Linked DNA regions of Homo sapiens: all the other regions are linked to region 3. The links come from fine-mapping of genetic effects on gene expression. A gene starts in region 3. Each other region holds a variant in brackets. All regions are shown on one strand. Distances are between the middles of the regions. Region 1 has its middle 5.8 kb from the start of SPDYA. Region 2 overlaps PPP1CB (protein phosphatase 1 catalytic subunit beta). Region 3 holds the start of PPP1CB-DT (PPP1CB divergent transcript).

Region 1 (2,762 bases), 53 kb after region 3:
CCAGGCTGGTCTCTAATTCCTGACCTCATGATCTGCCTGCCTCGGCCTCCCAAAGTGCTGGGATTACAGGCGTGAGCCACCTCTCCCGGCCAAGAGTGTTTTCTTAATGTAACAAGTTTAATCTGAAGTAAGTCTTAAATCTCCTAGTATATTTTTTGGAAAAAAAAAAAGCCAAAGAAACAAAACCAGAGTGTTGAAATGCTACCTCCAATATATGTATAACTCAAACTGATAATTGGCATGGTTTCTGACAGTGCTGCTGTTTACCAGCAGGTTATTGACAGACTGACACCTGTTCCATTCTTGAATAAATATAAACTTTGTCTCTCTAGCTCTTAGTTTAATAAAAATCCCTGAGAAGGAGGATGTGCAGGGTGGAGTTGCTGGAGAAAACTTAATGTCTTGTAGAACTCATAACTACTCAATTTACCAACTTAAAAATTAAGCTACATATTAGGAAATGTAGTTTATCACATGTAATAAGGAATTGAGATTATCAGGAAATCTTGGGTGAGGCTCAGGATCCAACATATAACTGGGCCCAGCACATAAAACTGTTACCTGACTTCAATAAGAAATTTTAGCCGGGCGCAGCGGCTCATGCCTGTAATCCCAGCACTTTGGGAGGCTGAGGCAGGCAGATCATGATGTCAGGAGATCGAGACCATCCTGGCGAACATGGTGAAACCCTGTCTCTACTAAAAACATAAAAAATTAGCTGGGCGTGGTGGCGGGCGCCTGTAGTCCCAGCTACTTGGGAGGCTGAGGCAGGAGAATGGCGTGAATCCGGGAGGTGGAGCTTGCAGTGAGCTGAGATCACGCCACTGCACTCCAGCCTGGGCGACAGAGCGAGACTCCATCTCAAAAAAAAAAAAAAAAAAATTTTAGAAACACAGATCTCTGCCTCCCAGTGTAATTGCCTCAGATTTTGTAGCACATCTCTTAACTGCAGCTTGATAATTCCACTGAAATTAATTCTATTGGTCATATTAAAGAACAGGTTAAAAAGTCTTTATTGCTGTACTGTAAAGCCTGTTTTGAGTGGAAGACCCTAATCTTCTTTTAGTGAATTCCCCAAACTCTGGGTATGCTCACTGACAACACAAGTTGTAATCCCTTTTTTTTTTTTTTTTTTGAGACAGGGTCTCACTCTCTCGCCCAGGCTGGAGTGCAGTAGCCTGATCACAGCTCACTGAAGCCTCAGCCTCCCAGGCTCAAGTGATCCTGCCGCCTTGGCCTCCCAAAGT[G/C]CTGGGAGAATTATAGGCATGAGCCATCATGCCCAGCCCATTTTATTTTTAATATATCATCAATTATTTCTTATACAGATCCATTAGGATGTTGAATGCTCCTTTAAAACTTTGTTGTATTTGTCGGCCAGGCGCGGTGGCTCATGCCTGTAATCCCAGCACTTTGGGAGGCCGAGGCGGGCCGATCACGAGGTTAAGAGATCGAAACCATCCTGGCCAACATGGTGAAACCCCGTCTCTACTAAAAAAAAAATACAAAAATTAGCTAGATGTGGTGCGCACCTGTAGTCCCAGCTCCTCGGGAGGCTGGGGCAGGAGAATCACTTGAACCTGGGAGGTGGAGATTGCAGTGATCCAAGATGGCACCATTGCACTCCAGCCTGGGCAACAAGGGAAACTCCGTCTCAAAAAAAAAAAAAAAACTTTGTTACATTTGTCTTTAAAAGTCATAAGGCCTAGATCAGTCTTGTATGTGACTAGAATGTAGCTCTATGGGCAGGGTTTTTTGTTTTTTTTTTTTTGAGACAGGGTCTTGCTATGGTGCCCAGGCTGGAGCACAGTGGCACAATCTCAGCTCACTGCAACCTCCTGGGCTCAAGCCATCCTTCCACCTTAGCCTGCGTAGTAGGTGGGACTACAGGCATGTGCCACCATACCTGCTAATTTTTGTAGAGTGGGGGGTTTTACCATGTTCCCTAGGATGGTCTCCAACTCCTGAGCTCAAGTGATCCGCCCACCTCAGCCTCGCAAAGTGTTGGGATTACAGGCATGAGCCATTGCGCCCATGCAGGTATTTTTTTTCTCTTTTGTTCACTGATTCGTATCTCCTTATCGTAGAGTGGCGCCTGCCACATAGGAGGCCTGCAGATACTTGCTTAATGAATGGCAAGTGGGTGTCAAAAATCTCTACTTGTATTACTGTTTTGACACCTTGACCTGAAGAAGTTAACCACAAATAATAAAATTCCAGTTTTTCTTTATCCTCATGTAACTGCTTTTGTCTCTTATGACAAGAATGCTGAAGTTTCAAGGAGAAAATTGATTTGAGTCTGTACTGCCAAAATAAATGGTTTGTCAAAACTCTGGCCCCTACTTTGTAAACTATTGGTAAGTTTAAGAAGTCAGCCAGGCACGGTGGCTCACGCCTGTAATCCCAGCAGTTTGGGAGGCCAAGGCTGGCAGGTCACTTGAGATCAGGAGTTCGAGACCAGCCTGGCCAACATGGGAAAACCCTGTCTCTACTAAAAGTACAAAAATTAGCCAGGCCTGGTGGCACACACCTGTAATCCCAGCTACTCGGGAGGCTGAGTTTCTTGAAGGAGCATTTTGCAGCTAGCACCTGACAGGCATAGTGGAGAAGTTGCCTGTTACTGAGAACAAACATCGCAAGATCCTCAGGATTACTTTCTTTCCTCCCCTTTCTATAGTCTCTATTCTGTTTTCTTGATCTTAATGTCACCTTTGTAGTGAGCCACCTCACATATTTTAGGAAAGTTGTATAATTTGTGTAATATT
Region 2 (2,762 bases), 46 kb after region 3:
TGGCAGGGACTTTCAGTACTCTGTTGAATAGGGGTGGTGAGAATGGTCATCCTAGTCTCTTGTTCCAGTTCTCAAGGGGAATGCTTCCAGCATTTCCCTTTTCAGTACGATGTTGGCTGTGGGTTTGTCAGATGGCTCTTACTATTTTGAGGTATGTTCCTAATTTTTCAGTGCCTAATTTGTTGAGGGTTTTTAACATGAAAGGGTGTTGAATTGTATTGAAAGCCTTTCTGCATCTATTGAGATGATCATATGGTGTTTGTTTTTAATTTTATGAGGTGAATCACATTTATTGATTTGCATATGTTGAAACCTTGCACCCCAGGAATAAACCCTTCTTGATTGTGGTGAGTTAACTTTTTGATGTGTTGCTGGATTCGGTTTTAGTATTTTGTTGACGATTTTGCATCTGTGTTCATCAGGGATATTGGCCTGAGGTTTTCTTTTTTCCTTGTGCCTCTGCTAGGTTTTGGTATTACAATGATGCTCACTTCGTAGACTGAGTTAGGGGGGAGGTCCTCTTCCTGGATTGTTTGGAATAGTTTCAGTAGGATTGGTACTAGCTCTTTGTACATCTGATATAATTCAGCTGTGAATCTTTCTGGGCCAGGGCTTTTTTTGGTTTATAGGTTTTTTTATTACTGATTCAGTTTTGGAACTTGTTATTGTTCTGTTCAGGATTTTAATTTCCTCCTGGTTCAGTCTTCGGAGTTTGTGTGTGTTTCTATGAATTTATTCATTTCTTAGGAGGTCATGTGTGTTTCTATGAATTCATTTCTTGGGAGCGCATGTGTGTTTTTGTGAATGTATTCATTTATTCTAGGTTTCCTAGTTTGTGTGCACAGGTGTTTATAATCTCTAGGTATTTTGTATGTCTGTGGGGTTGGTTGTAATGTCACCTTTCTCATTTCAGATTGTGCTTATTTGGATCTTTTCTTAATCTAGCTAGCAGTCTATCTTGTTTATTCTTTTGAAGAACCAACTTTTGGTTTCAACATTTACATTTTTAAAAGAGGCCAGTTTTAGCTTTAGTGTGCTCCTACAAATCATTCTTGTTCACTGAGTAAAACAGCTTCAGTACTTTGCTTTTGCAAAGGCTATTCTATGTCTTTGATGTACACACACTGTATTTCTCTTAAAATGCATTGGGGCTTTCCCATTCCTCTTTCTCTTTATCATAATATACTGTTTCCA[T/C]CAATTAGTACAATTGAATGGTAAATGGTTGATTGCTCATTTACAAATTAAATATAGTAACCATACCTTATCCTTCCAGCAGTTGTCATAGTGGTGTTGGATTAATATATTCTCTTCACTAAGGCACTATTATGTTCTAAATAGTTTTTAAAAAATACTTTGTACATATTTCTATACTGTTTTAGTTTTGGAAAATCATGACTTTTTTATGTATAATGTAGGTTAAAGCTCTATTTACATCCACCAGAATGAGTGTAGTAAAAAAGCCAGACTGTATCAAGTTTTGGCAAGGATTTGGAGGCATTAGAATCTTCATACATTAATGGTGGGAATAGAGTTCTCATATGATGCAGCAGTTTTACCTCTAGGTATATACCCAAGATATATGAAAACATGTTCACACAAAAACTGTTACATAAATGTGCATTATTCCTTATAGCCGAAAAAGTCACACAATTCAGATGTCCATCAGCTACTGAATAGATAAACTGTGGTACATCCATACAATGGACTGTACAATGTACAACTCAGCAATAAAAAGGAATGAAGGACTGATACTTCAAAACTGGTTTTGAAAACCTGAGTGAAAGAAGCCAGTCACAAAAGACCACATATTATATGATGCCAGTTATATGAAATGTTCAGAATAGGCAATTCTATAGAGACACATAGTAGATTAGTAGTTGGTTAGAGTTAGAGGATGTGGAGAGCAGGAATGGGGAGTGACTGCTGATGGGAACAAGCTTTCTTTTTGGGGTGACAAATGTTCTAAAATTAGATTTATATCAATAAAGCTGTTTTTTAAGTAAAAAGATCTATTTATACATAAATAAATAAGGTCTGAAGGGTTTGTGACTTGTAGGTTAGTTACCCTCCTAAGTTACTGTATCAGAATTATGATGACAACATAGATCTTCTGACTCTTAAACCAGTGTTCTTTTCCTCACAACAGAGATACACTAAGTTCAAAAAGTTTTTTACTTAAATCTAAGGATTGGATAGTTGATAGAGTTAGTGTACTTTTGTTATTAAAATATGAGTGGAATGACAAAGTTCAGACATTTGCACACTTTAAGAAATGTTTATGGAACTTTGCTATTCTACATTTTTATTGCATTTTTGCAGTTTATGCCATTTATTGAAAATCACAATTGTAACAATTTTCTTAACTTCTGTACATGAAAAAATAACATTATTTGTTAATAATTTACTTTAAGATATTGAAACCATCTGAAAAGAAAGCTAAATACCAGTATGGTGGACTGAATTCTGGACGTCCTGTCACTCCACCTCGAACAGCTAATCCGCCGAAGAAAAGGTGAAGAAAGGAATTCTGTAAAGAAACCATCAGATTTGTTAAGGACATACTTCATAATATATAAGTGTGCACTGTAAAACCATCCAGCCATTTGACACCCTTTATGATGTCACACCTTTAACTTAAGGAGACGGGTAAAGGATCTTAAATTTTTTTCTAATAGAAAGATGTGCTACACTGTATTGTAATAAGTATACTCTGTTATAGTCAACAAAGTTAAATCCAAATTCAAAATTATCCATTAAAGTTA
Region 3 (2,762 bases):
CTCGGTGAATCCCATCTACAAAGTAGAGATAATAATAGTACCTACCTCACAGGGCAGTTGTAAGGATTAAATGAGGTAACCCGGGTGTAACATTTAAAACAGTGGCAGAGTACATACAGGGATCTGAACAAATGTTAGCTACTATTAGTGATATGTGAGTGGGGGAAGCACACTGCCTTGGACTTGAGGCAATATCAAGTCTGAGTTTCTGGAAAAACACTTGTGGAATAAGTAAGGGCTGGCCACCTCCTAAAACCGGACAAAAGATCTGGCTTGCCTAGATCCTTAGCGTGACTGCTTCTCCTCCTGCCTTTCTAGAGGCAGTATTACGTGATGGAAATACTTGGTGGGTGCTGTGGGCACAAAGATAAGTTAATGTGTTTTTATTCCCTAGGAGCTGAGTCGAGAGTAGGAGAAAAATGCATAAATAATTACCAGGTAGGATGATTAAGCAATATACTGGAGGCAGCAACAGAAACACACCGTGGAAAAAAAATACCCACGGCGTGGATGAAGATATGAGATGTGTGAAAGCGCTAGACACAGGCAGCCACCTGCACCCATGTAAAATTGGATTATTGCTGACTCCTACAAGGCCCACTTTAACGCTTCTTTCAACCAGAATCCCTGCAGAACTAATTTTGTAGAACCGCCGGGGATAAAGACCTTTATTTGCAATGTCGAACTCCAGCAGAGTAACCCCTTTTGCTTTCCACACGCGCAAACCCGGGTCCCAAACGCTGCAGTTCGCGTTTCCCGGCTAACGGAAGAAACACGAGGAACTGTTTGCAGATCTAGGGGATGAAGCCAAAAAACGGAAAGCGAGGCCGAAAGGGCGCAACCACCACGTCTGGAGGAGGCCAGTGAAGTAGAGAAAGGGGAAGGTCAGCCCTGCCCCAGCGCGCTCTGCGTAACCGGGACTTCCTCCGCGCGGCAAAGCCGGGGAACCTCCCTGGCGCCTGCGCCACCGTGGCGAGACTCGGCGCCGTGGACGTGGAGAGAGGGCGACGCACCTGCGCGAAGACGGCAGCGGGAGAAGCCGCTCCAGTGCGGTTGCGCGGCGGCCCAGGCGTCGAGGGGAGCCTCGGCGGGGAGCGCACCGCGCGCCTGCGCGGAGAGCTGCGTGACGCGGCGGCGCGCAAGGGACGTGCGGAGTGAGTGGCGCTGCGGGTGGGGCCGTCGGCGGCGCTGGTGAGCTTTGCGGAGCTGGGCGGTGCCGAGGAGGAGGAGGTGGCGGCCTGGGTCTGACGCGGCCCTGTTCGAGGGGGCCTCTCTTGTTTATTTATTTATTTTCCGTGGGTGCCTCCGAGTGTGCGCGCGCTCTCGCTACCCGGCGGGGAGGGGGTGGGGGGAGGGCCCGGGAAAAGGGGGAGTTGGAGCCGGGGTCGAAACGCCGCGTGACTTGTAGGTGAGAGAACGCCGAGCCGTCGCCGCAGCCTCCGCCGCCGAGAAGCCCTTGTTCCCGCTGCTGGGAAGGAGAGTCTGTGCCGACAAGATGGCGGACGGGGAGCTGAACGTGGACAGCCTCATCACCCGGCTGCTGGAGGGTGAGTGCGCGCCTGGCCGCGGGACAGAGGGAGGTCGGGCACCGCCGCCGACCCCTGCGTCCCCGTCTGCCGCCGGAACGCGAGGGGACCCCTTTCCCGCCCCGAGACGAGTCTCTGGGAGCGCGGCGCGGCGGACGAACCGAGGAGGGGGCGAGGAGGCTCTGGGCGCGGGGGAGCGGCCTCTGGGAGCGCGGTCAGGGGAGATCGGGGGAGAGGGGGCCGTTCCCGCGGACCCTCGGGGGCCAGGCCCGCCGGCCGAAGGCTGTGCGGAGCGGGTCTGCGGGAGACAGCCTTTCGGAAAGGCCGCCGGGCTCCGCGCGCCGTGGTGCTCGCCTCCGGTGACCCGAGGATGGGGAGAGGATGCCTGCCACTGGGCTTTGTGCGTCCGTGGAATCACTGTTCTTCTCTGTTCTCTTTGTGCATTGCCCTTGGCTGCCTCCGATTGTCGTTCCGGGAGTGAATTTTACGTATATATATATAAACCTGTCCTTAACAGGACTGCTTCGTCTGCTCTGCATTTTTACACAATGCTATATAGAATGGATTCTTCTTAAAGAGAGGATAAAATTAGCGGGAATTAATCTACCGTTTGTTACTTGGCCTAAAAAAATTGTAAGACAAGATATTTGATCAGGTTGAAGATGCACCTAAGAAATGTGATGTATGTAGATGGGTTTGCTGAAGGGATTGGCTTTTGCATTTGATTTGAGCAGAGCTTAATTTCTGCACAAACTTAGTGAAAATCTATTTTTAAAGCCTGTCTTGTATTCGAAAGGTATTTGTAGGTCTACGCAGCATTTGAACTTTCCGGGCTCAAGTGTTCTTATTGAATAGTTTTATGTTGGTGGGAAGGCAAGGGGGGAAAACGAAGAGGTGGACTAGCCGGGAGTTAAATGTATTGATTCATTGCAGGATATTATTCAAAGTTAAATGCAGTCTTCTGCCAAACAGTCCCTCTACCCTAAAGTTTTCGTCATCAATAATTGTTTTGTGAGTGTGTAGAAAAGCCTTTAATCCTTTTTAAACAATTTAGAGGCCTCTTTGTTAGCCGCCGTCCAGCGATTGCATATGTACTGTTTGCTTTCAAATTACCTTAAGATAATTGCTAGAGTGAAGCAGTATGTACTTATATTTGGAAAATCATCAAAGAATATTGTAATGGGGGAGGGGTAATTCCTTTTTCTCAAAGTATGTGTCGGTATCTCAAACCCAAGT

Evidence for each region. PIP is the estimated chance that this variant, and not a neighbour inherited with it, causes the effect.
Region 1: its variant is fine-mapped to the expression of PPP1CB-DT in whole blood (TOPMed, PIP above 0.99).
Region 2: its variant is fine-mapped to the expression of PPP1CB-DT in whole blood (INTERVAL, PIP above 0.99).

What each region holds. Positions count from the first base shown.
Region 1 is chr2:28,803,700-28,806,461 of GRCh38, forward strand. No RefSeq gene overlaps it. Among named protein-coding and RNA genes, the nearest start is that of SPDYA, 5.8 kb to the right of the region's middle. The variant G/C (reference allele first, on the strand shown) is at 1,248.
Region 2 is chr2:28,796,788-28,799,549 of GRCh38, forward strand. It overlaps PPP1CB (protein phosphatase 1 catalytic subunit beta), which reads left to right. Exons shown (of 8, transcript NM_002709.3): 8 at 2,412-2,762. The coding sequence ends at 2,516. Among named protein-coding and RNA genes, the nearest start is that of SPDYA, 13 kb to the right of the region's middle. The variant T/C (reference allele first, on the strand shown) is at 1,195.
Region 3 is chr2:28,750,630-28,753,391 of GRCh38, forward strand. PPP1CB-DT (PPP1CB divergent transcript) reads right to left here and starts at 1,127. Exons shown (of 5, transcript XR_007086259.1): 1 at 1,014-1,127. It overlaps PPP1CB (protein phosphatase 1 catalytic subunit beta), which reads left to right and starts at 1,201. Exons shown (of 8, transcript NM_002709.3): 1 at 1,201-1,547. The coding sequence starts at 1,496. RefSeq lists enhancers at 614-823, 1,127-1,771 and silencers at 954-1,143, 1,634-1,853.